Linked DNA regions of Homo sapiens. The protein of the gene in region 1 interacts with the protein of each later gene in a biochemical or structural test. Each region holds a gene or a part of one and is shown on either strand. Other genes may lie near its edges. The genes, in order: TSPAN12 and RNF152.

Region 1 (16,353 bases):
CAATTGTTCAAACTGGCCAATCCTAAACCCACTTACCTGCCTCACCTATACCTTCCCATAGGAACCATGGTATAAGCACTTGCCCACAGTTCCCATCTCTCTTTGTGCCTTGTGACTGACCCTAGTGTTTCCCCTCTTGGCCCCCCATAATGAGATGTGTACTCCATGTCTTGGGATTTACGAATATAATAAACTGTCTTCTCAATGGCAGCCATCTCCTGGTCTGTTGGCCTTGGCATACCTAATTGACAGCAGAACATATTAAAACACACAGAGCTAGCAGAAGACTGTTGGCTCTTTGATGAAATCTGTGGGCACATGTTCTCCCTCTACTTGGCTATATGTGGGTCCTTAAAACCTTGTAAGTATCTCCGGGACAGAAAAGTCTATTAATGTGGTGTATTAGTCCATTCTCACACTGTTATAAATACCTGAAACTGGGTAATTTATGAAGAAAAGAGGTTTAGTTGGCTCATGGTTCCTCAGGCTGTACAGGAAACATGGCTGGGGAGGCCTCAGGAAACTTTCAATCATGGTGGGAGGGGAAGCAGGCACATCTTACATGGCCAGAGCAGGAGAAAGAGAGAGCAGAGGAAGGTGCTACACATTTTCAAACAACCAGACCTCTTGAGAACTCACTCACTACCAGAAGAACAGCAAGGGGAAAGTCCGTCTCCATGATCCAATCACCTCCCACCAGGTCACTTCCACAACACTGAGGATCACAATTCGACATGAGATTTCGGTGGGGACACTAATCCAAACCATATCATTCAACCCCTGGCCCCTCCCAAATCTCATGTCCTTTTCACATTCCAAAATACCATCATGCCTTTCCAACAGTCCCCCAAAGTCTTACTTTGATTCCAGCATTAACTCAAAAGTCCACAGTCCAAAGTCCCACTTGAGACAAGTCAAGTCCCTTCTGCCTATGAGACTGTAAAATCAAAACCAGTTAGTTACTTCCAATATACAATGGAGGTACAGGCATTCACTAAACAGTACCATTCCAAAAGGAAGAAACTGGCCAAAACAAAGGGGCTACAGGCCCCATGCAAGTCCCAAACCCAGCAGGGCAGTCATTAAATCTTAAAGCTCCAAAATAATCTCCTTTAACGCCATGTCTCACATCCAGGCAAAACTGATGCAAGGGGTGGGCCCCCAAGGCTTTGGGCAGCTCTATCCCTGTGGTTCCGCAGGGTACAGTCCCTGTGGTTGCTTTCTTTCACAGGCTGCCATTGAGTGCCTGAAGCTTCTCCAGGCACATGATGCAAGTCGTCAGTGGGTCTATCATTCTGTGGTCTGGAGGAGAGTGGCCCTCTTCACACTGCTCCACTAGGCAGTGCCTTAGTGGGGACTCTTTGTGGGGGCTCAAACCCCACATTTCCCTTCGGCACTGCTCTAGTAGAGATTCTCCATGAGGGCTCTGTCCCTGCAGCAGACTTTTGCCTGGATATCCAGGCATTTGCATACATCCTCTGAAATTGAGTCAGAGGCTCCCAAGTCTTAACTGTTGCCCTCTGTGCACCCACAGGCTTAACACCACATGGAAGCTGCCTAGGCTAATGGCTTGCATCTTCTGGAAAAGTGGCCTGAGATGTACCTGGGCCCCTTTAAGCCACAGCTGGAGCTGAAGCAGCTGGATCATAGGGAGTAGTGTCCCAAGGTTCTGCAGGGCAGCAGGGCCCTGGGCCCAGTCCATGAAACCATTCTTTCCTCCTAGGCTTTCGGGCCTGTGATGGGAGGGTCTGCTATGAAGGTCTCTGAAATGCCTTTGAGGCATTTTCCTCATTGTCTTGAATATTAATATTCAGCTCCCCTTTGCTTATGCAAATTTCTGCAGCCAGTTTGAATTCCTTTCCGGAAAATTAGTTTATCTTTTCTACCACATGGTCAAGCTGCAAATTTTCTAAACTTTTATGATCTGCTTTCCTTCTAAATATAAGTTCCAGTTTTAGAACATCTCTTTACTTACATATATGACCATACATTTTAGAATCAACCAGGCCAAATCTTAAACACTTTCCTGCTTAGAAATTTGTTCTGCCAGATTACCCTAAATCATCACTCTCAAGTTCAAAGTTCCACAGATACCTAAAGCAGGGGAACAATGCCACAAGTCTCTTTGCTAAAGCATAGCAAGAGTGACCTTTATTCCAGTTCTCAGTAAGTTCCTCATCTTCATCTCAGACCACATCAGTCTGGACTTCATTTGTCAATATTACTATCAGCATTTTTATCACAACAATTTAACTAGTCTCTAGAAAGTTCCAAACTTTCCCTCATCTTTCTGTCTTCTGAGCCTTTCAAACTGTTCAAATTTCTGCCTGTTACTGAGTTACAAAGCCACTTTCACATATTCAGGTATGTTTATAGCAATGCTCCATTCCTGATACCAATTTTCTGTATTAGCCCATTCTAGCATTGCCATAAAGTAATACCTGAAACTGGGTAATTTATAAAGAGCAGAGGTTTAATTGGCTTATGGTTCCACAGGATGTACAGGAAGCATGGCTGGGGAGGCCTCAGGAAACTTTCAAACATGGTGGAAGGGGAAGCAGGCACATCTTACCTGGCCAGAGGAGGAGTAAGAGAGAGAAGGGGGAGGTGCTACACACTTTTAAATAACCAGATCTCTTGAGAACTCACTCTCTACCATGAGAACAGCAAGGGGGAAATCCGTCCCCATGATCCAGTCACCTCACACCAGGCCTCTCAGCCAACATTCAACATGAGATTTGGCAGGGACACAAATCCAAACCATATCATGTGGTATTTTATTTCATTATCTAAAATTATTTTACAGTTATAAAAAACTCCTCTCTTTATCACTCTTCAAAGTAATGACTGCTGTTGGTTTCTCTGTTCTATACTGGCTTTATAGGCTGTTTAGCCAGTTTTCAGTAACACAGCTTTTAGTCGTGTCAAAACATTATTTCATTCTTCATAGTGTACAATTCATTATCAGTTTAGTTACTACATATAGGTCTTCCATTTTTAACAACAAAAAAAGTGTATATCTTTTAAGTGGTGTATTCCAAGACATTTCTTATATGGCAGGATGATTAAAAGCCTGGGCTTTGAAGTCATTCTTCCATTCAAAAATCATATATTGGTCACCCACTCTTTGCCAGGCACTGTGCTATGTGTTAGGGATACACTGATGAACAGTAACAGACACTGCCTCTGTGGTGCAATTAACTAAGTGAAGAGGACACAGGTTAATCAACTTATCAGGGATATAAATATGTAACAGAACTGTAACAAGCGCTGAGAAGACATAGTACAAGTTTCTGTACAAATTCCTTTGGGAGGGCCTGACCCATTCCACGGGGTCAAAGGAACTTCTCTAAGAGAGCTAAGATCTAAAGGATAATTATCAAGTTACTCAGGAAAAGGAGGGTTGAAAATAACCTTCTGGTCAGAAAGAACAAAGGCCCCACGAGGGAAGGCAACATGACATGGTAAGCAAAATTGGCACATGGTGAGAAGGAAAAAGCAGGCAGGGGTGAGACTGCATGGAGTCTTGGAAGCCATTTCAAGGTATATCAGCTTCACCATCATGACAATGAGAAGCCACTGAATTTTGAATTTCAGCTAGGAATTCCAGCTCTACTGCCTTTTAGCTATATGACATTCAGCTTGAACTTTCCTATGCCTCAGTTTTCTCACCTGTAAAATGATATAAAAATAAGTCCTACTTCATAGAAGAGCTATATGACAAAAAAAAAAAAAACAAAAAACCAGAGTGAGACTCTCATATACATAACCTATAATTACTGCAAGTCACTTTAGACTTAAGGGTTTTCTCTTAATCTTTCTCAGTCAGTCTGAAAGATTAGACTATTCCTAAATCAATTCAGAAATGGAATCTTCAGCTGTTTGAAGGTCTACCAGATGGACAAGAAAGGAAACTCTGGGATATAACTATCTATCATACTATCACGGTCAATTTCAACATCTCTAACACTAAACTTACCTCCATTCCTCCAAAACCTGTATGTCCCTCCCACTGTTTTTCCTGTAAATGGTATAATCAATCCTTCAATCATGTAAACTAGAGACTTGGCAGGGAAGCTGAACCTCTCCCTTTTCCTCAGCTCTATATCTAATTAGTCTCAAGTCCTTCAAATTGTTCTGGCAAGGCGTCGGGTGAATTCCTCCCCCTTTTCTGCCACAACTGGCTAGTTCAGGCCTTCATCCTCTTTTGCTATCCAACTATAATTACTTTATAATAGAACTCTTCAGCTCACAGATTTCACCTCCAATTCACCCTTCGGTTACTTTTATAGAACATAGATCAAGTTCTTCTGCTTATAGCTACCCTTTATGGTTCTTCTTCAACTACCATTTATTTCGTCTTCCCTCAACTGCCTCTGAGAGAACAAAGTTTAAACTCTTGAGCAGGGCACACCAGGCCCTCTTCAGCTACCCCTTAAACTTTTTCTTAAACCGTGCTTCCTGCCAGCTCTTTCCTAGACACATTCTATATATGGAAAACAACAAAACTGCTTGCACATCTCCAAAATGCACCATGCACACCTCCCAGTGCCTATACATCTTCACTCCTGCAGTGCCTTCTGCCTGGAATACCATCCTGCCCCAGCTTTCCTGTTCTCATGTGCTGAGCAACATCTACTTTTCCTTCAAGCCCAGCTTGAACATCAAGTCCAGTGTAAAGATTCTCTCCCAACTCCCGCCTTACCTACAGATCTTTTCCCTCTTAATGCTCTTTGCAAATACCTCATAAAGCAGTTATCCTATTGTTCTTGTTTCTGTCCCTCCATCTCATCCCAGTAGAGGGCACAGAACATGGCCTATCTCCCCATCACACAGAAAAGTACCAGGCTCAGTAGTGGTGCCTAATATAGGTTAGGTGAGTGAATGAGAAAATAATTAAATTAAAGGGAGATGGTTTCATCCTGCTAGATAAGCTGTTAGAGATTTTTAAACAAATTAGAAGATGTTTTAATAAGAACCGAGCTTTCTATCACTGGAAGTTTTCCAGAAGAAAGATGGTTTCTGAAAAACAAAGTCAAAGATTTATATATCAGATTAGAAGCTGGCTAAAGTGTTCTCAAAAGTACTTTAAACTAAAACTTTGCACTATACTCTGTCCCAATGTTTTTTTTCACAGGAGTATACCCAAACATTGCAGCTGTGCACAGAACATTAGTCAAAATAAATAATAACACCAAGCCTTACTCTATAGTAAACAAGCAACCCTGGGAATAAAATGGCTTTTTCTCAAGGAATTGATTCCAGCAACATTAAATGTCTGAGAACAGTTTCATCCTCAACAAGTGAGGCTTTACTCACTGGGCTTGAGAAAATGATAACAATAAAAACAAATATAGTGCATGCCTATAGCAAGAAACTGAACTAAAACGAGACTAGGTCAACTCAATAACTAAACCTGATATTAAACCTAGAAGCACAACTTATGTGAGGAATTCAGGACTCCTTGCTAAACATGTTATTTTCTGCTAATTTTCCAAAGTAACTATGAAAATAATCCTTCAAATGCCACTCACATTGGCTAAATTATTAGGAACATTATAGTTATCACAGGCAGCTAGGTTTTATAGCTCCTTTTGCTTTCTCCAGTATTGCAACATGTTACCTGAAGCTCAAGGAGATATTTTAAAACTAAACAAAGTGTTACTTGATAGAAATACATTTAATATATTATTTGGCAGGACATTTGTCACAATGTCTCTTGCAAAATACTTAGAAAGTGCTAGCTTTCAACAAATATTTGGAAACATAAAATTTGCAGTGTTGAGGACATGGTCTGCTTTTGCTTGCATCTAATTATATAAAAACAAGTCTTGAATCAAGTTGTTTTCTGAATCAGAATTGTATGTGTATGCGCATTTCCTAAGTGTATTATGAAATGTGTACCTATAATTTCCATAAAATAGTAAGGTCACGGTCAAGAAACAGTCCTTTCTATCTTTAAACTGTCTGCCATCTGTAACATATAGTCCCACATAAGATGACAGTGACACAAATAATTTCTGTTCAAGGATGACAGCTGTCTAAAACCACATACCTAAACTTTTCATGTCAAACCTGTTAGCAAAGAGAGGAACATAAAAGACCTGAATCTTAGTTACAGCTTTGTCTGTATAGAAAAGGACTTCGACAAATAATTCAAACTTTCATAATTTTTATTGGCTAATCTTGAAAATGGGAAAATTGGACCAGAAGCTTTCCTTCTTTTAAAAAAGAATTTAAATTTTTCTGGTGTTTTTTTCTGTCTCCTAGGCATGATCATAGCTCATTGCACCTGGAACTCCTGGGCTCAACTGATCCTCCTGCCTTGGCCTCCCAAGTGCTGAGGTTACAGGCATGAGCCACCATACTTAGCCTTTAAATTGCTATTTGTTAAAATGTAAAAGTAAGATCAAGCCTTGATTATTTGGAGGCTGGTCACACGAGGTGAGTCACACGTGTGTTTCATGTTGCCAGGCCTGCTCCCTTTTGCCTTTTTGTGAGTCTGTGCCTTCTCAGCTTCCCTCTACCAGGGGAAGGGCAGAAGGAAAGAGAGCAAACAGGTAACACTATTTGCTAAAGCTGTGAAAGAATAGGCAATGTAAATGATGGCTGAAATACAGTCTGGAGATTACTGGTGGGTATCATTTCAGAATGAACATCAATTAATTAGAGCTGAATAAATCAGTATCACCCTGGAGCTGTTCTGACCGATAGTTTTTCTAGACCACCATGTTTTCCTATAGATAGGGTGACCATGCATCCTGATCTGACCAGAAGAGACCCACTATAAGCCTCTGTTGTTTGGGCATAATTCTTAGCAGAAACATCCCCTTTTCTTCAGTCTCCACATTGTCCTAGTTGCCATGATAAAGTATATGATCACCCTAAAGTCACTATAAGTAGAAGAAGAGTAAAATGCCTCATTCTACATGATAGTTTCTGTGCAGTCTAACTGCAGTAAACTCCACTTCCCCAGTGTCCCAGCTCAGGATTATTCCCTGAGTGGAGTCAATGAGGGAGGAGCCTATTGCTCAGTATGCAGCAGAATGTGCTATGAAGAATCTTCCATGTACTTCTCAAAAAACATTCCTTAAGAAGCATGCAGCGGCTCAAGTCTTTGCTCAGCTGAGCCACAATGTATATATAAAAAGGTCGATCAGCTTTGCTCTGAGACTAAAAGATTTTTTTTTTTTTTTGAAATAGAGTCTCACTTTGTTGCCCAGACTGGAGTGCAGTGACACGATCTTGGCTCACTGCAATCTCCCCCTCCCAGGTTCAAGCAGTTCTCCTGCCTCAGTCCCCCCAGTAGCTAGGATTACAGATGCATGCCACCACACCCAGCTTATTTTTGTATTTTTAGTAGAGACAGGGTTTCGCCATTTTGGTCAGCCTGGTCTCGAACTCCTGACCTCAGGTGATCCACCTGCCTGGGCCTCCCAAAGTGCTGGGATTACAGGCATGAGACACCGCGTCCGGCTGACTAAAGGAATTTTTTATGGTGAAAATTTATTTTAAAAGACCACAAATATTTGTTGGAGGGCTTTCCACTATTCCTTAGGAAGAGTTCAAAAATACTTGAATACCATTCATAGCGTAAAGTTGGGGACACCAATTTAAAATGTAGTATTTTAATATGATTCATAAATGTCCTTCCTGTGAATTCAAACTTCTACTTGCCAAGGATCTAACTCTTCAGATTCTGTGTGGATCAAACACTTAAGGTTCACTACGGATGGCCAGAGAAAAAGAAAGAGAGCATTGAGCCTCCTGTCATTTCATCTGCCACGCATATATCTCAAAAGCATAAACTAAATTTCCTGTCTACTTTTTTAGACTTTCTTTTATAAGTTACTTTTCATATTTAATCAGGGTAGTTCTTCTCTATTGCTATTATCTTTAGTAACGGTAAGTAAAAAACAATGGTTCTTATATAATGGTGAGATATGGGAGTTTATATTATACATTTAGAAAATTAGAAACAAACACATATTTGATGAATTTTAAATGTTCACCAATGTCAGAAATTTTCAAGGAGAACCATATTTATCTATATTTGCAATAATAGAAAATTACCATCTAAGAAATACAAATGACCAAAAAGCTACAGAAACTGTCTTTAAAATGGTAGAAAGCTCTCATTTCTTTAAATAATATGCCATTTAAATTTTACTAGTAATAAAAGCGTATAAATTTGAAGGAAAGGTAACCCACGTCCTTACTCCACCATGGAGAGAAGGTGAATCATGGTCTCAAAAGAACCCTCAGGCAGTTCACCTACCCACACCATCTCCTATGTGCTCCTTCCCATCACAGACCCACAATACTCATGACAAACCTAGAAGGCCCAATACTTTTGTGCCGACCCCAGTACAATAGTACTAGAATCTGGCTTCTTCATGATGTGGAAAAGACACTCTACAGATGGCAAATCAAGGTGACTGGATCCATACAATAAAGAGAATGCAGAGCATGTGTGATCTTGAATGTGCTATGGATTGTTTCTTCTTAGACGCATTTATAGCTTACACTTAAAAACACATCTATGCCTTACATTTTTTAAAAAGTACTCAAGATATACTTTTTAACTTAAAAAAAAAACTCTCAGTTTGATTTTTGACTCTCAGAACAGGAAAACAAAATTGAATGGGTTCCCAATGTTTTTGTGATTAAGATTTATTTTTTTTTCCCTAAAATCCTAGTGGGGTAGAAAAGGTAAGAAGGTACCAATATAGTAAAAATAGATTTAAAAAAACTAAGACTACTTAAAATGCCAGTGGAGAGTAAAAGCCTATAGCTTTTCACCTCATGGGTAATGGGGACAAGGTTGTCAATCTTGCAGACCCAGAGGGAGGAACAATCTCCCTCTCCATAGTCAGAATGTAAAGTCTGGTTTAAGAAGTGGGGTTCATATGCCACACTGGTTTGTTCTACTTGTAATTCCCATGAGAACTAAAAGCTAGTATTAAAGCCTTGCTCCTCAGGGTGTGGCACTCAGACCAGCAACATTGGCATCACAGAGGAGCTTGTTAGAAATGCACTCTCAGATAGAACGCACAACATACTAAATCCAAATCTGCATTTTAACAAGATCTCCAGGTGTGCATGCACTCTGAGGTTTTAGAAGCACTGTTCTAGAGAACTTGGAATGAGCAGGTGGACAGCTAATCCCTTCCTTCTGAGGATGTTTACTTGACTTCTCTCATGCAAATAAATCCATCACTGTTTCCAGCAATTTAACTTCTACTACACTTGGATAAAAAACAAAACTGGACTTTCAATTCCTGTTCTGCTACTTACTAGCAAGTTATTGAACTACTGAGTACCAGTTTCTTTATCTAAAAAAAAGAGAGAGAGAGAGAGAGACTAAGAAAGAAAACTATTTTATGGGTCTATTATGAGAACTAGATGAGAGTAATGTTAACAATGGCCAGGAATGTCTCCAGCACAGGCTGAAAACACCTTCTGACTTGGTAATGATAGGATCTGCAAACATTGCCTTAACACTGAAGAAGTAAAATCAGTTTCCCTAAAATTAGCCTATTATACATTTCATACTATTCTAACAAAAATCCCAGCAGATTTTTTTTTTTTTTTTTAATTTGAGACAGAGTCTCACTCTGTCACCAGCCTGTAGTGCAGTGGGGCAATCTCTGCTAACTGCAACCTCTGCCTCCCAGGTTCAAGTGATTCTCCTACCTCAGCCTCCTGAGCAGCTGGAATTACAGGTGCACGCCACGACACCCGGCTAATTTTTGTATTTTTAGTAGAGACAGGGTTTCACCATGTTGGCCAGTATGGTCTCAATCTCTTGACCTCATTAACCACCTGCCTTGGCCTCCCAAAGTGCTTGCATTACAGGTGTGAGCCACTGCACCCAGCCTCAACAGATATTTTTAATTGGATAAAATAATCTTAAAGAACATTTTTAAAAACAAACCTTAACCAAGTCAAGAAATGCAGATATATATATATATATATATATACACACACATATTTATATTTAGACATATATTTATATTTATTTTTATACATAATATATTCGTATTTATACATATAAAATCCTGTAGAAAATTATATTACAGGCCGGGCACAGTGGCTCACACCTGTAATCCCAGCACTTTGAGAGGCCGAGGTGGGTGGATCATGAGGTCAGGAGTTCGAGACTAGCCTGGCCAATATGATGAAACCCCATCTCTACTAAAAAATACAAAAATTAGCTGGGCATGGTGGTGCACACCTGTAGTCCCAGCTACTCAGGAGGCTGAGGCAGGAGAATCGCCTGAACCCGGGAGGTGGAGGTTGCAGTGAGCTGAGATTGCGCCACTGGACTGCAGCCTGGTGACAGAGTGAGACTCCGTCCCAAAAAAAAAAAAAAAAGAAAAGAAAAGAAAGTTATATTACACAGAATATAGAAAAGTTTGTTTAACTATTGTATAGAAACAGATAACATAAATGAAATTAACACTTAAAATATAGGGCAAACCTAAATGATAAATATGAAATAGTTAATGAATATGAAATGAAATGATGTATATGAAAAATATACATAAAATGATGCTCCTGCTCACTGGTAGTAGGGTAGGTACAAAATAAAGTAACAATGAGATAATACTTTAAATGTTTCAGATTGGCAAAGATTTAGAAGTGCCATATTACCAACAAGATGGCAACAAATATTTTTGTACATATAATGGGGTAATTACTGCTTTTATTTCTAGGGAACAGATACCCAGAACAAGATTGTTGGGTCAAAGGAATTGCAGTAGTGGTAGCAATAGTAGCAGTATTAATCATAACAGTAACAATTACTATGATTAGTACCATAATGATAGTAGCAATCCACCTCCTGGTAATCTGCTAGAACATCATCATCATTGTAGTAGTTATAGTAATAACTGCAATACTGCTATTGCAGAGATAGCACTTATTATGTGCCACTGTTCTCAGCGCTGTATATATGTTAACTCTAATCCTCCTCACAACTCTAAAAGATAGGGAACTATGATTCCTATTTTACAGGCTAGGAAACAGACACTAAATGTGCCTGGCAAACATAGTAAGAAGCGTTAGCTATTTTGTATGTTAGTTAGATAGGTTGGCTACTTTTGTTTTTGTTGTTGTTATCACATACTTTTTTACATAGCAATTCCACTCCTATGACTCTAACCCAAATGAGAAACTAATTTAACAGCAAAAAAATCAAGAATTTACATGTATAGCATTGTGTATCTGTTGTGGACAGGTATGAGTAAATCTATCTTTGTATGAAACAAAATAAAGAAAAACGTATACAAGATGCTTAACCTGGATTATTTTGTTGAAGCGTAGGTGATATTGGGAGAAGAGGAGGGCTGGAGAAATAGGGAAGCAATCTAAATAAGTCAATAAACCAGAACACACTCACACACACACACCACACACAAACATAGAAAGTTAGAAGGTTTAAGTACAGGGTAACAACAAAGAAATAACGTTTACATTCTCTGGGGACACAAAGAGCCCTGGAAGAGTTTCAGGAATAGGTGCTTTTATGCAAATTTCATTTCCAAGAGGAGTGATATTTTTGTTGAATGATTTGGTTCTTTTTTCCCACACAATGTAAAGTATTAACAAATTTTTCAAAGCTTTATTCTTTATTAAACAACAACAACAACAATCTTAGTAATTCTAAGGTTCAAAACTCAGTAAGGGTCAAGTGAAAGACACTGTCTAGGGGCAAGAAAGCTGAATTCTGTTCCTGGCACTGCCACCATTGGACTATCTGATCTTTGGCAAGTCACTTAATCTGCACTTAATTTCCTCACTCACAAAGGAAGGACGTTCAACCAGGCCATCTTTAAAGCTCCTTTTAGAAGTGGAATGTGATGATTCTATAATTAAAAAGCACAATGTAGAAAAGTGAAAAACTAGTAAACAGGAGTGATAATTATCATACATCTTAAAGAAATGGAGTTTAAACTCTTAATAACTTTTAATGATCCAGGTAATTTAATGATTCACTTAAAAATCAAGCTTTTAAGAAGTATAAACTACAATAAGATCAACTTGTGATTTTACATTTCCAAATGGTGAATTTAACTACCCAATGCTTTAATTTTGAGAAATTAATGCTTTAATGTTGAGAAAAGGAATGCTGCCATTTTAGATATTTTCAGATTACTCACTGAAGTAAGACTTAATTTATCCTTTAAAATGGGGCCATCTATAAGGTGCAGTTCAACCTAAATGTCATCTTCTAGAGACCACATGTAATAGCCCTATGAAAAAAAGGCTGGGCAATGCCAGCCAGTCAGCACGCCAGCCAGTCAGCCACATAAATAAATTGCACAATAAAATTTGTAACAGAAAATTTTGAATAAAATTATTAATAGAACACAAAAAAATGGAAAGAACAATTTGCTTAAGAATGGCAGCCTCCTGAAGCAACATTTACTGTTTAAATTGTTACATTTTCCTAAGTTTTATAAGTAATAATACGATTATTAATCATACTTTATTAAGATTTAAAGCATAAAAAGTCATTAACTCATAGGGCATAAAGATTTCCATGAGCTTGTTACATTTTATGTATTTTATTTCCTTAAATGGTTATGGGATTTTCCAAAAGCATACACACAATTCCTTAAACTTTGCCAACTTAGAATTAGTTACATAAAAATCACCCTTCAGACCGTATGGAATCCCCTAGACAAATCTACTCAGCCTTTCTGTGATAGGTTATCTGGGTGTGAATTCCACCACCACCTCCCCCTCGTCCCCGCCCACAAAAAATATATTAAGACTTGGCCCAACTAGATTTTACAGGCGACAGAGATGTAAAGAAACAATTTATGGCTTGCACAATTATCTAAAATTCCCGCAAACAAGCAGTTCCCTAAGTAGTATGTCATAATTTTCTTATCTATGAGTAGAAGCACGTGCATTTATTTATATCCCTAGATTAACTTCAAGTCTAATTTTACTGCCAGTAGTATCCAGGGGTGGATTTCTTTGTTCTAATTACAAATGGAACTTGAGCTAGATCAAAGGCATTTTAAGAAGGTCAAATTTTACTTCTCTGAAAAATAAAGGGTGTTATCCCATGTAATTAATTAATGCTTAGCCATGCCCTTTGGCGCATTATCCGGTGGCTGCAGAAAACCAGAGCCAGCCGTTCCCACCTGTTGGTGCAGTGAAACTTACTTACCCAAAAGAGCAGATTGAGGGCGTAGAGCAGGCAGCGCAGACACTTCACGGAATCTTCTCTGGCCATTGTGAGCCCCGTAAGGGAGAAGCCCCATCCTTTCACCACATCCTACTCCCAAGGGCAAAACGGCAGCGATCTGCAGGGGGCGGGGGAGAGAGAACACGGGACATCTCACCATCACGCTTCCCACAGCCTGCCCGTCCCTCCTCCACCCGCCCTCAGCAGGGTCCAGAGGGTCCCGAGGCCCAGTGCATTCGAGACATCGCCTCATCAAAAATCATTTGTTAAAATCATAATGGTAACTAAACTCCCAAAAGTTCCAAACCGGCTTCAGATAACACCTGCTGGGAAAAGAAAAGAGCAACTATCCGGATGAATGAAGTCGCACAGTAAACTCGCGTTCTCAGGGGACACGCGGCGGAGCCCTGTGCATTCTGATGAGACGCTCTTGAAAACCTCCCTCACTCCACGCCCCTCCTCGAGGACAGCTGTGCTCGGCACTGTCCTGAAGGTGAGAAACCACACTGCCCCCTACCCCGGACACGTCAGAGGCGCCACCGGCAAGCCCGAGAGAATGAGCGCCCTTCTAGTTAGGACAGTTCCTGGGCACTCCAACTCCGCACCCCTCTACCCCGTCCCGCAGCTCGGGTGTGAATGCAAGGGACTGGGGCGGCGGGGCGGGGGCGGGGGCGGGGGCGAGGGGGCAGCGCGGAGTTGAGATTCCGCCCGGCTACTAGGGTTTCTCTGGGAGAACGTGAGAAATGATGTTTTCGGCCCCAGAATGATGGATTAGCCTGGGACAGTGGGCGGGGGGCGGGGGGCGCCGGGGAATTAGGGCCGATGCAGCTGTGCAGACGCCGGGTTAGTCATTCAAACCCCGCTTCCCCCGCCCGGGACGCTCCCGCGACCCCTCGCTCAAAGCCGCCCGCGGAGCACAAAGCGAGCGCGGCCACCGACCCAGCCATCGCGTCCGCGCGCCCCCGGCAGGGCGCGAGGGGAAGCGCCGGCGGCAGGGAGCCCCAGAGCCAGCCCTTAAGTAGTTTAGCACACAGCGCGGAGGGCAGCCGCCGGCGGGCTGGCGGGACAGCGGGCAGGAAAGGCGACAGACGCGTGGCCACTTACCGTCGGCGCTGGGCCCGGTGCCCCACGCCCGCCTGGGGATAGTCGGGGACGCACGGCGGGGGCTCATCGGGGCAGGGAACTTCTTCGCGGAGAGCCGGAGGGCTGCATTGGCTTCAGCTGGAGACGCTTCTTTCTCTTCCTCTCCCCCCGCCGCCGCCGTCGCCGCCTCCTGGGAAAAAGAAAAAAAAAAAAAAAAGTCCTGGGCAGCAGTTGCTGGAAAGTCTCTGCTAAGCCACCTCCCAGCGCCGCTGTCCCTCCCAAGTCCTCTCCGAGTCCGGACGAGGCAGCGGCGGCAGCCAGGGCCAGCTGCACAAACTCTCAGCGCATGCTCGAGCCGCTGGCTGCCGGGGTTGGGTCCTAGTGGGTGTTTCTTGTCCCTCTCACCCAGCGAGAGTCCCCAAAGGGACGCTTCACCTCTGCAGGATAGGGTCCAGAAGATAATGCCTAGGAACTTGGGAGAAGTCCGTGCAGTAAATCCCTTTAAAATGGTGGCGTCGAAGGAATGGAGGCTGGGTTATAAGCATAGAGAAGCAGGCTTTTATTATATGATAATATTTGTGTTTGAGAAGGGGGGTGAAGGGGTGGCCCAACCCAATTCCTGCAATGAGAAACTAGTTTTCACAACCTTTATGGAGCCACCTCCTGTGATTTGTTATTAACATGGTGCCCTATGATCCTTCTTATTGCTTTGTTGCCCTCCCGGATTTTTTTTTTTTTAAGTTCTTTCCCACTTTCATAGTGCACTAATAGCATTTACGGAAACATCAGAGTAATCATGTGCAGTCTGACATGCAGAAGAGGAGGAAAGAACATTTTTAACTCTTAGAAGTAACTCAAGCTTTCCAAAATTTCTCACGATAAGATTGTTTTGAGTTAACTGGGTGATTTATTTTGAAATGTGTACATAGTAGTGGATCTTTGGAAAATCTAATTTTTTTAAACTAGAAATTCATGAAGTATTACACAGCAGGAGACCATCCTTCCAAAAGAATCTTCCCTTTTAGAAGACAGAAGTTTCACACTAAATAAAATGCCACTGGATCATATCCTCCACATAAAATGTGGATGTGTTGTGCTATGCCTCACAGTACTGCTCATTTCTAGGATTACTTTTGTGGGCACTGCATGGCAAATAAAACTTCACCAGCAAATATGAATTACCTGGAATACGAGCAACATCTTTGACCTAATAACTGGAGTCCTTGGATTTCCTTGCAGAAAAAAAAAAAAAAAAAAAAATGGAATCCTATGTCCATGACTGCCTGTCTAGAGTTAGTTGCTGCATGACTGGAGTGACAATAAGACATGCAGTCTCATATGGAAAAGTCAAGACCAAAAGACAACATGGTTGTCCTGGGTTAGGCTAGGAAAATTATTGGTAAGCAAGTCACTAAGCAGTATGTAAGACAGCAACCCAAAAGAGTATAAAGAAGTATAGCCATACACAAAAAAAACACCAAGAAACATGTCCAGTTATCCATCAGATGACTCCAACTCTGATAATGAAGCAGCTTCTAGAATACTGGGGAAGAGCAAAGAAACCCACTTTTATCCTCTGCCAGTTTCTTCTCAAATTAGGGTGCATGCCTATTTTAAGCAAAGGACTGCTGAAACAACCAGCCATCCAAATGCTGTTGGTGCCATACATTCCCCGGAGAGGTATAAACATCCCCGCATTGAAAGGAGTCCATGACTGCTATTAAAACTGAGAAAAAGAGTGCCAACAATTCCCATGTGTCAAAGCAGAGATCCTCTTCTACTCCTAGAAGGTAGTTAAGTGCCCTTTCCTTAATTCGTATACCTTTAAGGGTCAACTGCCTTAAAGTAATAAAATACTAGAGGAAGTTACTTTAGAAGTATGCATGTCCTCTTCTTCCTGGTAAACAAGAAATACAGATCCAAGATAAAGTAGTTGCTCAACGTCACATCTGTAGTCCAACCTAGATTCCAAAGTAAAATCCAGAATAATGGCTCTTAGTACTCTAGTTTAATGGTTCTCGAAATTGTTGTACACGAGAATCACTTGGAGAGCTTTGAAACAACCC
Region 2 (16,962 bases), on another chromosome or scaffold:
AATGCCCCAGAAACTTTGAAATTACTGTATCTTTTGGGATTGACAAGTACAAATGTGGGTTGCGCTGCTGCATAAGGAAAGGTACAAAGGAGCTGTGAGAGTGAGGATAAGGAGGAGCAGATTGACTTGAAATCATGGGGGAGATATGGGGTCCTAAAGTACTGTGAGCCGCAGTGTCAGGCACCCTGAGCTAAAATAGGAATGGCTTGGAAGAGACTGAGATGCATTTTAAGGCAAATCAAGTGCAATTGCCTGTATACTTTGGTCTATGGGAGGAAGCAGTGCAGCAATTAGGGGAAATAGCTTTGGGTTCGGCAGACCTGAGTCAAGTCCACGTTCACCATTTACTGGTTACATCATATTGGGAAAGATGCTTAAATTCTCTAGGCATTTGTTTTCTCATCTGTAACGTGAGGATAATCATATTACTTCTAGTGTTCTTGCAAGGACACGTATGGAAACACACACACAATCTGGTACATACACTCAATAAATGTTTGCCAATAAAAAAGAAATTATAGTAATCTATTAATTTTGGATATGGTTGCTATCCTGAAGTTCCCTTGTCCTGTAGCAGAATAATTTGTGTCCTTTAAAACAATCAAATCTGCTGTGAACATTTAAGGAGTTGTGGAGATAGAAGGAAAAGGGTTGAGAAATGAGCAAGGGGTCTTTACTCCATGCCCTCTCCCAGCACACTTCACCCACTGGGAAGGCAGGGAAGGAACAGCAGAGGAGAAACACTGCAGTTAGAATCAGAGGAGGTGGGTTTGTGGAGACACGTCTTACTTGGCATTTCCCTGTGCTGACCTCCTCAAGGTCTGACCTGGCTGATGTGCAGAGGCTGCCACTTCTCTTCTTGACCACTAGAGGGTGGACTGACTTGAGCCCCTAGATCCAGGTGCAGCAGAAACAGACGTTTGGATTCCTTGAGTTTGAATGATGAGGGCAGGCGCAGTGGCTGAAAGCAGAGACAGTGGGGAGGAAGAACTGCGTGAAGCTAGGTCTGGACCTGGGGCAGGTACAGGGGTGCTAGGTCCACTTGGATGAGGTGCAGGTGGATTACAGAAGAATAGATCCTGGAGAAACTGGAGCCAGATTCTGCAGACCAGCAGAGGGCAAGACATTGGATTCAGACTTGGGGGTCTCAAAAAACAGTGGTGGGACCTCCTGGCTCTTTTGTTCCTTTTCTCCTTTCTCAAAGTGGCACCATTCCATGATCTGGCAGCTGGAGCAGCAGGAGGGGAGGGGCCAAGTGGATGCCAGGAACCTGATAGCCAATGGAAAGGAAAGATAAGGAGGACAGTTGGAACCGCATGGGTGACAGAAGGTGACCTGGAGGGAAGGTGAGTAGGACAGATGGTGGAGGTGGCAGACAGTGGGGTGAGAGGGGAGCTCCACATCCAACCCTTCCCTGGCTGATCACATGTGGTCACTCCAATCCATTAGGGAGGGCGAACACTGTCTTGTGTTGATTGTACAAGGAATGGAGCTCAGTGTATGATGATTCTCCTCTATCGTACTTATAGCAAAGACACCAGCAATTTGCTAGTGGATGTGAGGATCTTACTCAACCCCGAACTGCACAAACATGATAAGAACACAGCAGATACCTGCTGCTTAGGAGGGTGTCCAGAGGACTTTGGCATCATAGTCTGAGCTGATGTTTAGCCAGGACACACACCATAAAGGCCATACTGATTGTGTATGGTCATTGCCCAAAATGATAGGTGGAGGTCTGCGCCTGCAGGTTGTTAAACATGTTGCATGGTGACCGACCATCGCCCTTGGCAATGGTCACATCATTCTAGCCAACTGTTTTGGAATGTGTGTTGTGCATATCGAAGATGAGGTTAAAAAAATAGAGAGGCGGGGTGTGTTGACTCACGCCTGTAATCCTAGCACTTTAGGATCACTTGAGGTGGGTGGGTCACTTGAGGTCAGGAGTTCGAGACCAGCCTGGTCAACTGGTGAAACCCCATCTCTATTAAAAACACAAAAATTAGCCCGGCGTCGTGGCACATGCCTGTAATCCCAGCTACTCAGGAAGCTAAGGCAGGAGAATTGCTTGAACCCAGAAGGCCAAGATTGCGCCACTGCACTCCAGCCTGGGCGACAGAGGGAGACTCCATCTCAAAACCCAAAAAAAAAAAAAAAAAAAAGAAAGAAAGAAAATAGAGATGGCTTTGTTCAATCCACCACTACTTTTAGAAAAGCAATTTGGATTATTTCCTATTCAAATCTTTTGAGGTTTCCAAAATACTTCAGTATTTTGTTCTAGATGAAGTTTCATTGTCCTAAGTAGCACTGGGCTCTAAATAGGAAAGAGATTAGACAATATGTCAAATTAATACCTTTTGCATCCAGAACATCTTACCAGAATAAGAAGTCTGTGGGATTGGTTTATATAGGGCCCCAAAATAAGAACAGTTTTGAAGTGTGCACTATATTAAGCAATCATTACTAGTAAACTTTTTGAGGCTAAATAAACTTTAAGACTTTTTTTTGTTTTTTTTTTTTTTGAGATGGAGTCTCGCTCTGTTGCCCAGGCTGGAGTGCAGTGGTGTGATCTCGGCTCACTGCAGCCTTAGCCTCCCAGGTTCCAGCCATTCTCCTGCCTCAGCCTCCCTGGTAGCTGGGATTACAGGCACATGCCACCACACCTGGCTAATTTTTACATTTTCAGTAGAGACGGGGTTTTACCATGTTGGCCAGGCTGGTCTCGAACTCCTGGTCTCAGGTGATCCACCTGCCTTGGCCTCCCAATGTGATAGGATTACAGGTGTGAGCCACCATGCCTGGCCTAACTTTAAGACTTCTTAGACTTTTTAAGACTATATATACTTTAAGGTGGCTAATATCACATAAGGGAAAAGTAAATTGGCAGATCAATTTGGTCTGCAAATTTTAAACATCTATTAGGAAGGATGATAACGTGTTCGGTTAAAGACGACTTTGTGGCTTATTATTGACAGCTTGTGAAAATTGTCTAAACATGGGATCCCACTTCAATGCTTTTAAACAGTTTATTGAGGTATAATTTACATACCATAAAATCCACTCGTGTTAAGTGTAGAATTCAATGATTTTTAGTAGATTTACTGGGTTGTGCAACTACCACCCTAATTCAGTTTCAAGGTGCAATTTTAACATGTAAAATTCAAACACGTTGAGTAGAAAAGTCACTCTCAGTATTGGACTGGATTAGGATCTGTAGTGATAATCAAGCACTGAATAGGGTTTGCTTGTTTCCTCCTCCCGATTTCTCTCTCTCTCTGCCTTCTTGCCCCACTGTCCGCCTTCTTCTTAGCGTGTTAGGTGCTGAGGATACAAGTTGAAAGATGATCTCTGCCCTCCCAGATCAGGAAGACAGTAATGAAAAGCGACTGAAGAGATCATCACATTCTTTTGTGAAAGTGTCATCCCCGACAGAAGGGCTGCCCTGGGTATTATGGGATCACATTAATCTCAGCTCCATGCCAGGTTCTGGGAGATTTAAGGGCTCAGCTCAATAAACATTTATTGGGCACCTGTGCTCCATGCTGCAGGTACAAAGATGAAGAACTCATCCCTGCCCCAATGTAAGCAACTCTAATACAACCTCAGGTGACTCAGCATCAATCAATGTTATAGATCTGACTGTCCCTGTAACCCAGTTCCAGCATCTCGACCTTTGCCCGCGGGGAAGTGCAGACACCCCCCACTTGTTCCCTCTGATGATGGCAACAGGCTTTCCCTATTTACTGGCATGACACTGTGCTTTTCTTCCTGCAGTTTTCAGCTCAGAAAATGCCTCCTCAGGGAGGCCCTCCCTGGCCACTGATCTAAAATTTCCCCCCCAACACACAGACTTCATAATGCCCCACCCCCACTTTTTCTTTTTCTTTTTCTTTTTTCTATTCTTTTTTTTTCTTTTTTCTTTTCTTTTTTTTTTTTTTTGAGACAGAGTCTCGCTCTGTCGCCCAGGCTGGAGTGCAGTGGTGTGAGCTCCGCTCACTGCAAGCTCCGCCTCCCGGGTTCACGCCATTCTCCCGCCTCAGCCTCCCGAGTAGCTGGGACTGCAGGCGCCCGCCACCTCGCCCGGCTAATTTTTTGTATTTTTAGTAGAGACGGGGTTTCACCGTGTTAGCCGGGATGGTCTCGATCTCCTGACCTCGTGATCCGCCCGCCTCGGCCTCCCAAAGTGCTGGGATTACAGGCGTGAGCCACCGCGCCCGGCCCCCACTTTGTTTTCTCCCTTACCTTTTTCACTCTCCAACATACGATTTATTTATTTATCATGGGACTAAACTCTGATTTTTTTTTTTTCATCTTGCCCAAATTCCTATCTAAGGGGTCTGGGGAGTCATGCCCTACAAATCATAAATTCTCATCAGATGGGTTTTATTTAACCCTATATATCATGATTTACTTTCCAACCTGACTCTGGCATAACATTATAAGGCAAAAAAGAATATCAAAATATTTTACCCCAAAACATGTTTCTTTCCATATTTTGAAATGACTCTGCAAAGCTGTTCTTTGTGGAGGAAAATTGGCATCTGTAAAGAATCTCTATTAACATAGCTAGATATTTTTCTTCCAGACGCTCTCAATCCTAAAGAGATTAACTAAGATCTGAATAGGAAACATTTGTCACCTACTGTCTCTAAGGGCAGCCGCTATAAGATTTCAAAAGAACTTTGGTCTCCATAATCTTGATCTTAACCTGAACATTCCCTTTCTATTTCAGGTCTTTAGACAAACTCAACCAATTGTCAACCAGAAAATGTTTAAATTCACCTATAGCCTGGAAGCCCCTGCTTTGAGTTGTTCCGCCTTTCTGGACCAGTATTTCTTAAATGTATCTGATTGGTGTCTCATGCCTCCCTAAAATGTATAAAACCAAGCTGTACCCTGACCACCTTGGGCACATGTTCTCGGGACCTCCTGAGGGCTGTGTCATGGGCCATGGTCACTCATATTTGGCTCAGAATAAATCTCTTCAAATATTTTACAGAGTTCAACTCTTTTCATCAATATTTTTGGTATTGTCTGATTCCTCCATTAGAATGTAAGTTCTGTGAGGGCAGGAATTTGGGGGCGTTTTCTCTATCCTAACCCTAGGACCAGGTTCCCAGTACATAGTCCATACTCAATGAATATTTGTTGTATGAATTCATGAATATTTGGATCTTTATCTCAGTCCCCAGTGCTGGGGTCCCATCCTGACAGCCCTAGTCCTTCAAGACCTGGGATTCAGCCTTGATTCCCTCTCTCTCTCCCACACATGGGCAGTGCCCAGTCTCCAGGGCAATGCCAGATTCTCTGACCATGCTGCTTGCTGGCTTGCAGCTCTAAACACTACCTGGTCCTAACAGCCTTGATCCTGGAATTTCTCACCGAAGACTCTGCTGGGACGTGTTGTTGCCTGTTCTTCCTCTGACTCAAACTGTTTTTGCCCGCCCCAGTGCTGGCCTACGACCAGCCTTAAGAACTGGCCTATCCCAGTCTGCCCTAGTTAATTAACCTTCTCTGTGTGACAGCTTTACAAGACTGGACAGAAGGCAGAACACCCATGATGCTCTGTGAATTAAAATCCCAGCCAGTGGAAGTGAAAGAGTCAGGATGGGGGTGGTTATTCCACATCGAGTTGAATGCTTGAATCCCCCAAACAATAGTTCCAAAAGCAGCTGAATAAAAGAGTTGAAAAATTTTGGAACAATTACTGATCCCTGAAATTAGCTTCTGAAGAGTAGTCTTTAAAGTCATTCTTGTATAATCATAACATTTCTAGGCTGAACTTTCCTAGTAAAATTTGGGATGTTATAACTCATCTTCCTTATTCCAACTCCTTGCCAACATCAGAGTTTTCAAGACCCTCATTAACTTCTCCTTAAAGTGAATTTCTGGAGCTGGGCTTGGTGGCTTACGCCTGCAATTCCAGCACTTTGGGAGGCTGAGGCAGGAAGATCACTTGAGGCCAGGATCAAGACCAAACCAGAGCAACAAAGAGAGACCCCTATCTCTACAAAAATAAAAAAATACAAAAATTAACTGGGCATGGTGGCACTCCTGAAGTCTCCCAGCTACTTGGGAGGCTGAGGCAGGGGGATGCTTGAGCCTGGGAGATTGAGGTTGTGGTGAGCCAGGATTTTGGCCACTACACTCCAGCCTGGGCAACACAGTGAGACCCTGTCTCAAAAAAAAAAAAAAAAAAAAAAAAATTCTCCTTCCTGCCCTGAAGTTGGGGCTTAAAATAAAGACTCTTGAAGTCTTCTACTTCAGGATTACCTTAGGCTTCTAAAACATGGATACAGCTTTTACTCTTTTCAGGTGTACGAAGGAGGTTTTAGCTTGGGTGAACAAAGGGATAAGGATCAGTCAGATGACCATAGGAGGCAACGTTTTAATTGGGATCCCAGGGACAACTGATACCCATGAAGCTTTATCTGTTTCTAGATGACCAGTTTTATGTATGTGCTTAAGGACAGCACTTTTGGAAACCCCATCAACAGGTCGTAATTGTGGGACATGACAAGAGTGCTCTCAGTACATTGTGAGTTTTATAGTAGGTTACCTAGAGTCCCCACTGGCTCACAGGGCTTCCTCTAAAAAAAAAAAAAAAAAAAAAAAAAAAAAAAAAAAAAGGCGCGGTGGCTCATGCCTGCAATCCCAGCACTTTGGGAGGCCGAGGCGGGCGGATCACCTGAGGTCAGGAGTTCGAGACCAGCCTGGCCAACATGGCGAAACCCCATCTCTACCAAAAATACAAAAATTAGCAGGACGTGGTGGTGCGGGCCTGTAATCCCAGCTACTTGGAAGGCTGAGGCAGGAGAATCGCTTGAACCCGGAAGTTGGAGGTTTCAGTGAGCTGAGATCGCGCCACTGCACTCCAGCCTGGGTGACAGAGCGAGAGTCCATCTTCAAAAAAAAAAAAACAGAAAAAGTAAAAAAAGAAATCTTGGCAGAAGCATTTCAATAAGCTACTTGGGGGAGTGAAAATGGGGACTCTTTCCTTGCGGATACTACGGACCTTAAGACAAAGACGGCTCCACTCCAGCAGTGGGGAAAGGCAGCAAGTGCCGCTGGAATCCGTGGGGATCACACTCAACTGAGCCCTGCTGCTGGGGACCGGGTAACGTCCGCAGGCTGAACTTCATCTCAAGAAGAGAGTTTTAGGTTTTCATGCTGCAGAGAAATCCTTTAAAAAGGCACCAAAGGGCATGGAACTATCTTCTACCAAGGACCTTTCTCCTCCATTCTCCTATTTCGCAGTTAACTCAAGAGGCGGGAGATTTTCTCCGGGGAACAAGACATTCTAAGCACCTCCCTAGGTCGAAGTTAGGTTTTAAGGTGTGGAATAGGGTGGGCCCCGAGGTTCCGTGGGGTTCGCGCTTCCATATAACCCCTAGGACTTGCATCTCTTTACTCCCCTGCTTCTTGTCCCCCATTCGAGGGATTCAAGTAGTGGGGTGTCCATTCGGGCCTCTTTGGAAAGCGGGGCCCCACCCTGGCTGGACTACGTGAACTTTTAGGGGCAGCCAAAAAGTATCCGGTGACGAGGATGCAGGGCAGCTTCTGGAAACCTGATGATCTCAGCTCCTCCCTCTCGCTGTCCGGGTCCTAGGCACAGACTGGGCACCCCCCAACCCACCCACCGCGGCCCCGGCCCCCTTCCCGGCCCTGCCCCTCCTCCCGGCTGCCCAGGCCTCCTTTCACACCTGCCGCCAGCTCAGGTCCCGCTTTTGCACGGTAGAGAGACGGCGTCGAGGTCCTGGCCGAGGGTAGGCACTGGGGGCAAAGCCGAGGGAGCGCGCGAGAGAGGGTAGGCAGCCCCTCACCCCGGGGGAGGTGGGCGATTCGGGACTGACGGAGAGAAGTCCCGGGCCCGCCGGGCTGTGGGCGGGGAGGAGGGGGTGGAGCCGCCGGGGAGGGCGGTGCCGCGGGGAGCGGAGCCCAGCCTCTCCCCCCACCCCCTTTGGTGCCGGAGTCTCAGTGACACAAAAAGCTCTCGCTCGGTGCCGAGCGCCTGGCGGCGGTGTCCGACCGCGAACGCGGAGGGCGGCCGGGCAGGTGGGGGTGCCGCCCGAAGGGCCGGGCCGGGTGCTGGGGCTGCAGGCGCCGCCGCCGCGCTGTCAGCGTCCGCCCCGTGGCTCTCGGCCGGAGGAGCGGCGGCCGCCGGCCCGGGGCGCGAGTCTGGCTGAAAGGAGCGGGCGCGCCGGGACCACCCGGCGATGCTGTCGCCGCCGCCGCCGCCTCTGTAGCGAGCACCCGAGCCCGCCGCGGAGAAAGGTCAGTGAGTTTCGGTTTGTTTCTCTGCTCTGCCGGCTCCGGATCGGGGGCGGACAGAGGGGTGCGCAGGGATGTCTGCGCCCCTACGGCGGCCGCGCCGAAGCCGTGGAAGCGGGAAAGGGCAGCTGCCGCCTGCTGTAACTGGGGAGATCTTCTGGACCGCGGAGGGGGTGGCGGGGCCGCAGGGTCCCGGGGAGGGGAGCGCGGGGTCTGGCGGGGCACGGGGGAGGTGGTCCCGGGAGTTGCGTGTCTCCTGAGAGCTGGCGGAGTTGGGCGGGCGGCCGCGGCGGGGAGCGGCGCTGTCGGCTGCTCGGCCGAGTCCTCGGATGCCCCCTGGAGCTCCGGTCCGAGGGAGCTTTCCTCGTGCCCGCGCCGCGCGCGCCCCTGGGTGTGCACGTGCGCGCGCGCCCGCCCCAGTTGCGCCCCCGGCCCGCACACACCCCGGCTCATCTTCTCCCGGTCCCCTTGTCTCGCGCCTTCTCCAGCCCTAGAAGTTGCCCCAGGGCCCCTCCCGGGATTAGAGAGCGCTGTGAAGGGCCAGATGTTGGGGGTCTTTTGTGCAGACACACGCGCCTGGGGCGCTTGCTCCTGGAAGGACAGCGGCAGGACAAAGCCAGCTGGACTCGTGGGGCGCTGCTCGGGAAGCGGCGGTCCCCAATCCCGCCTGGGGTCGGGGCATGGCTTGGGGAGCGCTGCCTGGGTCTGGAGAGAGTAGAGAAATCGCCAAAGCAGAGTGACGGTGACTTGATGAGGTGACGGTGACTTGATGAGGTGGCGGTGACTTGATGAGGTGGCGGACAGGGGCAAACGAAAGAAAGATGCTCGGGATTGCCGCGCTGTGTGCCTGTCTGCGCGGCTGACTAGGCGCCCCGCATTCCCATATGACCGGGTTACCTGGTAGATTTTGCCAGTGTGTCTTTGCCCCAAGATGTTATTCCCCACCTGCTCCGATTTCTTTCTTTCCTAGGGCTTACTGTTGCTAGTAGGCGCTCTGCCACCAGAGGGGAACTCGTGGGCGGGGGAGACTGCGGAGGAGGGGGGAGGTGGTTATTTATCCTGTAGAGACAATTAGGAGCCGTGACGCCCCCTTCTCGGCCGCCAGCCCTCCACACCTCATCTGCCTTGCTCCACCTCCCTAGTGCACCCGCTCCAGCCCCGTCTGCCCAGGAGGGCGCTTGGATTTCCTTCTCCGCGGCGCGTATCTAACCCTTCCTGCATGTATTTCACTGCAGGCTGAAGAAAGCTCAGTCTCAATTGTGTTTCCTGCCTGTCAGCCTCTTGCCTCCTAAACGTGTACCATTTCCACTTGATGTCATCACGCAGAAGGGGTGAAAGAGACTCGGTGACAGATACAGGTAACCCCCCACGATCTGGGTAGCGCCTGGGTGTCTCTGGGTCATTTGGGCCGACAGTGCTGGCACAGGGCTGTTTGGGTGGTTTCTGCATCAACATCGTTCCTATCTGTGAGAAGGTGTGGGGGCTGCTAAAACTCCTGGTTCAAAGAAATAAATTGCAAATGACTTTATACCTTCCCTTTGAAGAAGCCATTGGAGGTAGGTGCAGGGTGAATTTGGGATTGTAGAAATCCCACCTGGTTTCCTTTCATGGGAATTTTGATATAATTCATACACAGGCAGTTGTATCTGAATGTTAGGTTTCCATAGATGCCTGCTTTCTTATCTGTAGTAATAGATTTAGGCTTCAGTCTAGAGGTGGGGTATCCTTTGTTGAAAAGGTATCATTGGAAGGCTGATTGTACTTTTGCCCAGTGCTCTAATTGAGCACCGGTCAAATGCAGTGACCTTCGTATGAAATACTGTCTTTCTTCTGTTCCTTCATTGTAATAGTGTTTGCAATATTAAGAGAGACATGCTAGCAGTGAGTACTGGGAGGTGGAAGGGAGGGCTGTTGGGGGCAGCAGAAAGAGAACAGAGAAAACAGCTTGAGTGAAGTTTCCATTTAGATAGCCATGAACCAGTAGACTCTCATTCTGGATTTTATCTTTAGGTTATTGGGGCTTTTCCAAAAACTCTGGCCTGTTCTTTTCTTTCCAAGGATAGTTCTGTTTTGATGTCAGCCTAGCCAGATCTGGGGTTATCTTGATAAGAGTGCAATGAAAAAACGTAACCTTCAGACTTAGCAGGACACTCCGGCATTAGCATTTTCTGCTAGAGGGCAGAGTCCTGCGCATCCTACACTAGTAGCAGGGAATAAGAATGGTTATGGAAATGGGCTTTCGATTTTTCTTGTAGGAAGACAGATTGCTGAGGGCCAAAGGCTCCTGGTCTACTCTCTTTTACATTGCAGTAACACCTTGGTATCTGTGACAGATTCTCTCTTCACCATTTTCCTCCAAATCCCTTGAAAAATGAAGTTAAAAACTTGAAAGATTTATTATTCACCTCCAATGTAGTTTTGTTTTGGAAGGTGACTTTAAAAACATAGGTGACACTAGCATTTATCCTTCTACTACAAGCATTCAGGAGTCACTAGTAAAAGCAGTTGAGTTATCTAGTCCCAGGTGAAACAAAGGCCAGTGCTTTGCAAAGATCAGATGAGTAATGTGGTGCTAAGATAGAGGTATTTTTGACAAGTAATTTTTATGTCAGCAATAGTACAGGGTGTGTACTGTGTTGCTGCAAGAAGAAAAAACATGTGATGGGATAATAGGGAATGTAATAATGCAATAGAAACAAGGGTGTGGTTTTTTTTTTAATAGAAAGAATAAACACTTCGCACACAAAATTCCACATGGCAAAACAGTAGCCTGCCCATGTAAATGCACGTCCAAGAACAAAGATAGCCACAGTGCAGTGTTAGGTTTCATTGTGGTTTTAAATTGTGTACAGTAATAAATCATAATAAAGTGTCCATTGATGCTTAATTTTTTTTATATAAGAAGGAGGCTCCCCACCCTCAGATGTGTTTAGCTTTAGGCTGGAGGATCCCTAGAGGCTATTAGGCTGATCTCTGCCTCCAATGCCTGCTTCCTTTCTACAATGCTCATTTATTCATTTAGCAGATGTTTATTGGCACCTGATAGATAATGGACTCTGTGATAGATAATGGACTCAAGGGGTTGGGGTTGGGTGTAGGGGGAGACACAAAATTGAACTCCCTATAGGAAGACCTGATTCTAATTAACTTCAATGGAAGCTCAAGAGAGGTAGGATTGGACTTCTGGGGAGAGAAAATATGGTCATCCAGCCTCAACTTTAATGCCTCTTTCATTGAGGAGCTCACTGCTTCATAAATGGCTGTTGCTGTTGTCAGAAGGTGGCATTTTCATTGTAGTCTTTTTAGCTGAATTCCATACAGTTCGGTCCTTACATTGTTGAGGGTCATTCTGTTTTCATTTCTAATTCCCTCAGAGTTGTTTGAACCCACCTATGCTGTCAGCACCCTCTGCTTTTCAAGGTAGTGTTCAGTTCCTGATGAAGTTGAATTTTGAAACAAATGTTGCTTTTCCATATTATCTGATTTAGAAAACAGATTGATGGGATGCTTTTGCAGATTTTTCTCTTTTTTAAACAGTGACGTACCAGCAAGATAGGTGAGGTTATGCTGCAGTAACAAATACCTCCAAGTCTCCATAGCTAAATACAGTTTCTTTCCTTCCCATGCTGCATCCAGTGTGGTTGGCAGGTGGACCCTGCTCATCGTAGTCACTCAAGGACTCAAACTGATGGAGTCTTGGTCTTGATGTGAGCTTGCAAGATCATTGCAGCATCGGGAAGGAAATGCTGCAGGGTCTTGCTCTAGCAATTATGTGATCCTACCCAGAGGTGAGTTCCATCACTTTGGCCAGAACTGGGCATATGACCCTATTTAATCACAATTCAATATTTCTTGTGCTGAAAAAGGGAGAAGTGGATATGGGTGAGTAGCACTAGTGACTTCCACAGGGATCTGGTCTAGGTGAGGTTAGAAAGTGTGTCCTATGGGACCTAGCTCAGTGCTTGGTGGGTATTGGATGTCACAAGAGTATTGATTGAATCAACAACCTGTAATTTACAACCTGTATATTTACTATTCCAACCTGTAATTTACTAATATATGGTCCTACCCCCACCTGTAATGTACTACTAATATGTTGATATGGTATTTACTAACATGGTTGTACACTGGTCATCAAATAAAATAATTATAATCCTCTCTTTGCCTATTTCAAGTGCATGTTTACTCTGAAGTGAAAGGCCATTAGGTATTTTCAAGGCTGATTCTAGGAGGTTGTGAGCTTAGCATTATGTAATAGAGAGGTGTTACTTACAGACTTTCTCTTCCTCACCATCTGCCTCTTGTTTAAGGCTTCCTGAGTTTGTTTGGAACCGCCCAGGGTAGAAAAAGAGTGGCAATGGGCCTAGGGCCACCCAGGAGGTGGCCTCCTGCAGCAGAGACCACAGGGCAACAGATAAGATCTGAAGGGGGCAGGAATGTGTTTAGGGTAACCTTGGGTCACCCTTTTGTTACTTTGATGTTTAGAAAAAGCAATTTGGGCAAGAGGCTTTTTCTGGTCACAGGACTAGTAGAACACCCAGAGAGTTTAGGGACATTTGTGCTTCCATCAGCAACTGTATTGACTAGGAGGGTGGTGAGTTCTAAAGCCTTCCTTGCCTCACTCTCCCTAAAAAGAGTTGGATGCTATGGAATAGGCATTGCAAGGTGCTCTGGATTCAGCAGTTGGTGGCTTGCAGAGATTTTGCTTTGGGAAGAGCTGTTCACTCATATATCTTTGTTCACATTGTGATAACGGCATGCACGGGTGAGCCATTTTAAAGATTTGATAAATACCTTAAGCATAAGTGTAGAATTTAACAAAATAATATTGCTTTTGGTTCAGTAATCACCTTGGCAAAGTCATTTTTATAAAGATAGCTCTCCAAATAAGGAAGTGGTGTGGTAAACTATGTTAGTCTCCAAGTCACAGTGACTGAGGGGATATCAGTATCAACCTAGGGAGGTTGAGACCACCCGGCTTCATTCAAGTGATAAGATGTAGCACCCAAAGCGTTTCTGAATTGGGAGATGAGCAGCTTGGAGACCAGCAGGAAGAACCAGATATAGACCATCCAAAAACCCATTCAGGGTGCCTGGGGTTGGGCTGAGGGCCAGGCACAGACTGAGGGAGAAGGAAAATGAAAGCCCCGAGGGACTAGTCTTGAACTATATTTGGGAAGCCCCAAAATGCATTTCTATATTTTCTCTGGCCTCTGGGTCCCTACCACTTTAATTTCATACCCAAGTCGGCTGGTCAGGTAGAGGACTCTTGTGGCATGAAAGTGGTTTCTGGCACTGCCCATTGTGACGTCATGGAAACCGGAAAGGAAGAAGGTGTTGGTTTTCCTGCTTCTTTTCCCATGGCTTCGAGAGTTACACTGTGTGATCCAGCAGTCTGACTCCATGATTGAAATCACAATTGGGATAAAGTTGGTAGAGATGCTTCTTAATTTACAGTGGGGTTATATCCTCATAAACCCCTCATAAGTTAAAAATATTGTAAGTGGAAAATGCATTTAATACACCTACTGACATCATAGCTCAGCCTTGTCTGCCTTAACTGTGCCCAGAAATGCGCATTAGCCTACAATGGGGGCAAAATCATGTAACAAGAAGCCTATTTTGTATTAAAGCATCAAATATCTCATGTAGTTTATTGAATACTGTATTGAAAGTGAAAAACAGATTGGTCGTATAGGCACTCAAAGTACGGTTTCTACTGAATGTGTATTGTTTTCACACCATTGTAAAGTCAAAAAATCAAAGGTCATAGGTCAAACAGTTGTAAGTAGGGAACCGTCTGTGCTTGTTACATGCTTAGGGATTTTCAATTTCTAATTGACTCACTGTCATTGTAGGATTTAAAGAGGGAGACCTCAAATAGTGTATCTGTGACCTGCATCTCCTTTGGGTGGTTCTTGATGTCCATGATTTCTTGGCCTAGATCACGTTTGGCTGCTAAGGCCTGGACTACGTTCTTCGTGGAGTTGTGAGGGGGCTGCTTGTGATCGCCTAGGAGTGGAGAGGATGCCTTATTTACCCCTTGATATACTAATGCCTGCATAAATAAAACTCATTGCAAACATCCTGCATGATGAAACTTACTCAAACATCACATAGACTTCCTGGTTACCTGCCTTTCATGCAAAGGAGGGGCTGAGCAAATGAAGATGTGCTGCTGGTGGGAGCAAAGTTATGAGGAAGTAGAATCTCCAAATGCTGTGTTCTGTGCTTGTATTTTCTCTTTCTACAACCTCCTCTCCCCTGCCACTATCGCATTCCCACCTACCAAGGAAGTGTAACTTTCCCGGCTCAGTTCTGATCTAGACATCCAGATAATCACACTTGGTGCACTCCTCACTGAGGTTTGACAAGAATTGAAGAGATTTTGGTAAAAGCTTTGACAGATACTGTAGAAATAGGGAGCATTCTTTTTTTTTTTTTTTTTTTTGAGATGGAGTCTCACTCTGTCACCCAGGCTGGAGTGCAGTGGGGCATGATCTCAGCTCACTGTAACCTCTGCCTCCTGGGTTCAAACTATTCTCCTGCCTCAGCCTCTCGAGTAGCTGGGATTACTGGGATAATTTTTTCTATTTTTAGTAGAGACAGGGTTTCATCATGTTGGCCAGGCTGGTCTTGAACTCCTGACCTCGTGATCCACCCGCCTTGGGCTCCCAAAATGCTGGAATTACAGGCGTGAGCCACCGCACCTAGCCAGGAGCATTCTTCTTACTATTGCTGTTTCTGCTCCTTGACAGATTCACTTAGTGACAGTTGCCACTGCCGCATCTTAGTCAAGAACCTTGTTTCTCTCTGGGCTATGACAATGGTCTTGCTCACTTTCTGGCTTTCCCACCCCACTCCAGTTTGGAAAATGCTGTCACTCTTAGACCATTAGGCCAATTAATCCTTCATCCCCTCACTTAATAACTTTTAGTTGCCCTTGTGGGAGGAAGCTCATATTCTTCAGTTTTGCTTTTCAAGTTTTCCCCAGGTTGACCCCAAACTTCCTTTCCAACCTCGACTTTTGCTCCGCCTGACTTTAAAACTGAACATTAGCTGGGATGGTTAATCCACTGTTGCCCAAAATGTTTTTCATTGCCTCTTTCTTATTCTAGCACATTCTGTGGCCTAAAATGTCCTCTTCCTTCCTCTGCCTCTATCCTATCATCGAAGCCTCAGTTCAGCTCTCAACTCTTCTGAAAAATTTAACTTGATCACATTAGCCTTTAGAAATTCTTTATAATCCAAAGTTCTCTGGCAAAATTGCCTCCATCTCTCATTTCATTCAACATTCATTCATTCATTCTACAAAGGCCACTTGTCATAGATTGTCTTGTATTATCACCTACGATTGAAGTGTCTTTTTCTTTCTGTTTAATTGCAAAGAATAGAAATTCACTCAAGCTTGTTTGCATAAAGGGAGGTGAATTGAAGAGATGTCCCAGGATGTCTTGTCATCAAGCCACATTTCCCAAGAGTTCCAGTGAATGGGACCCTTCCAGTTATCATTCACCCTGGACCTGCTTAGTGCAGGAGAGGGTTGGGGGCACAGTTCCTTCCAAGGGGGCCTGTGGCTGGCTGATGTAGCAGTTGTGACCTGCAATTAGCCTACAATGGGGGCAAAATCATGTAACAAAAAGCCTATTTTGTATTAAAGCATCAAATATCTCATGTAGTTTATTGAATACTGTATTGAAAGTGAAAAACAGATTGGTTGTATAGGCACTCAAAGAGATCTCAGTTCTCTTGCAAGCTCCTTAAAGATGACTGGATGAGGCTTTACACCATTGTGTGTTTGCCACCGTGTTTGTACACAGGAAGGGCTCAATAAACAAATCATTGGTGACTCTTTGACAACACAGAAAACGATTTTGACTTACAGTGATTTAAAGGAATTTTAGACCCTTTTAGCTTGAAGTCTTAAAGGAAGTTAAGAAGATAGAAACTTATTTTTAAGAGCTTCCCCTACTTGCATTAATAATGATTAAATGTTGAATCAAATTAGAATGACCAGGCTGCAGTACGTATACCAATGTTTGGGAGGTGAATGTTCTCAATGAGGGTCATGATTCTAACAAAATTAGTTGTTACTCAAAGCCTGTTTTTCAACTTCCATTTGCCTCCTACTTTGCCCACAAAAAAAAAAAAAAAAAAAAAAAAAAAAGAAAGCAAAAGAAAGCAAAAGAAAAAAAACCTCTACTTGGTGACATACAACAAGCAGCTTTAGGACTTTACAGCCTACCAGACCACCCCACAATCTAACGGAGCAGGCATTGATGCCTGGATTTGTGATGACTGGGTGTAGTTGCCCACCGCTGACTGCCCCACCTGCGTTTATAATTAAAGGCTTCAATACCTTTGTGATATACATCTGTTTTACCTCCCTTTTTTTGATTTTGGAATACTCATTCACATGATAGAAACTCTTCTTTGATACTCAAAATGCTTGATCATTATGAGAGTGTTATTATGAAAGAGGGAAATATGTTCAGCTGCTTGAAGAAAATGACCAGAAATACATTAATATTAAAATAACGCTCTCGGCTGGGCGTGGTGGCTCACGCCTGTAATTCCAGCACTTTGGGAGGCTGAGGCGGGTGGATTACTTGAGGTCAGGAGTTTGAGACCAGCCTGGCCAACATGGTGAAATCCCATCTCTACTAAAAATACAAAAATTATCCAAGCATG

The links.
Region 2: the proteins of TSPAN12 (region 1) and RNF152 form a complex in vitro, tested with the Homo sapiens proteins (one study listed by BioGRID).

Annotation. Positions count from the first base shown.
Region 1 is NC_000007.14:120,843,512-120,859,864, forward strand, and holds the start of TSPAN12 (tetraspanin-12), read right to left. Parts: upstream 14,634-16,353; 5' UTR 14,309-14,633; intron 13,698-14,308; exon of another isoform or gene 13,324-13,697; intron 13,323-13,323; 5' UTR 13,253-13,322; coding exon 13,187-13,252; intron 1-13,186. UniProt on the Homo sapiens protein: Regulator of cell surface receptor signal transduction. Plays a central role in retinal vascularization by regulating norrin (NDP) signal transduction.
Region 2 is NC_000018.10:61,885,462-61,902,423, reverse strand, and holds the start of RNF152 (E3 ubiquitin-protein ligase RNF152), read left to right. Parts: upstream 1-9,416; 5' UTR 9,417-9,629; intron 9,630-16,962. UniProt on the Homo sapiens protein: E3 ubiquitin-protein ligase that acts as a negative regulator of mTORC1 signaling by mediating ubiquitination of RagA/RRAGA and RHEB.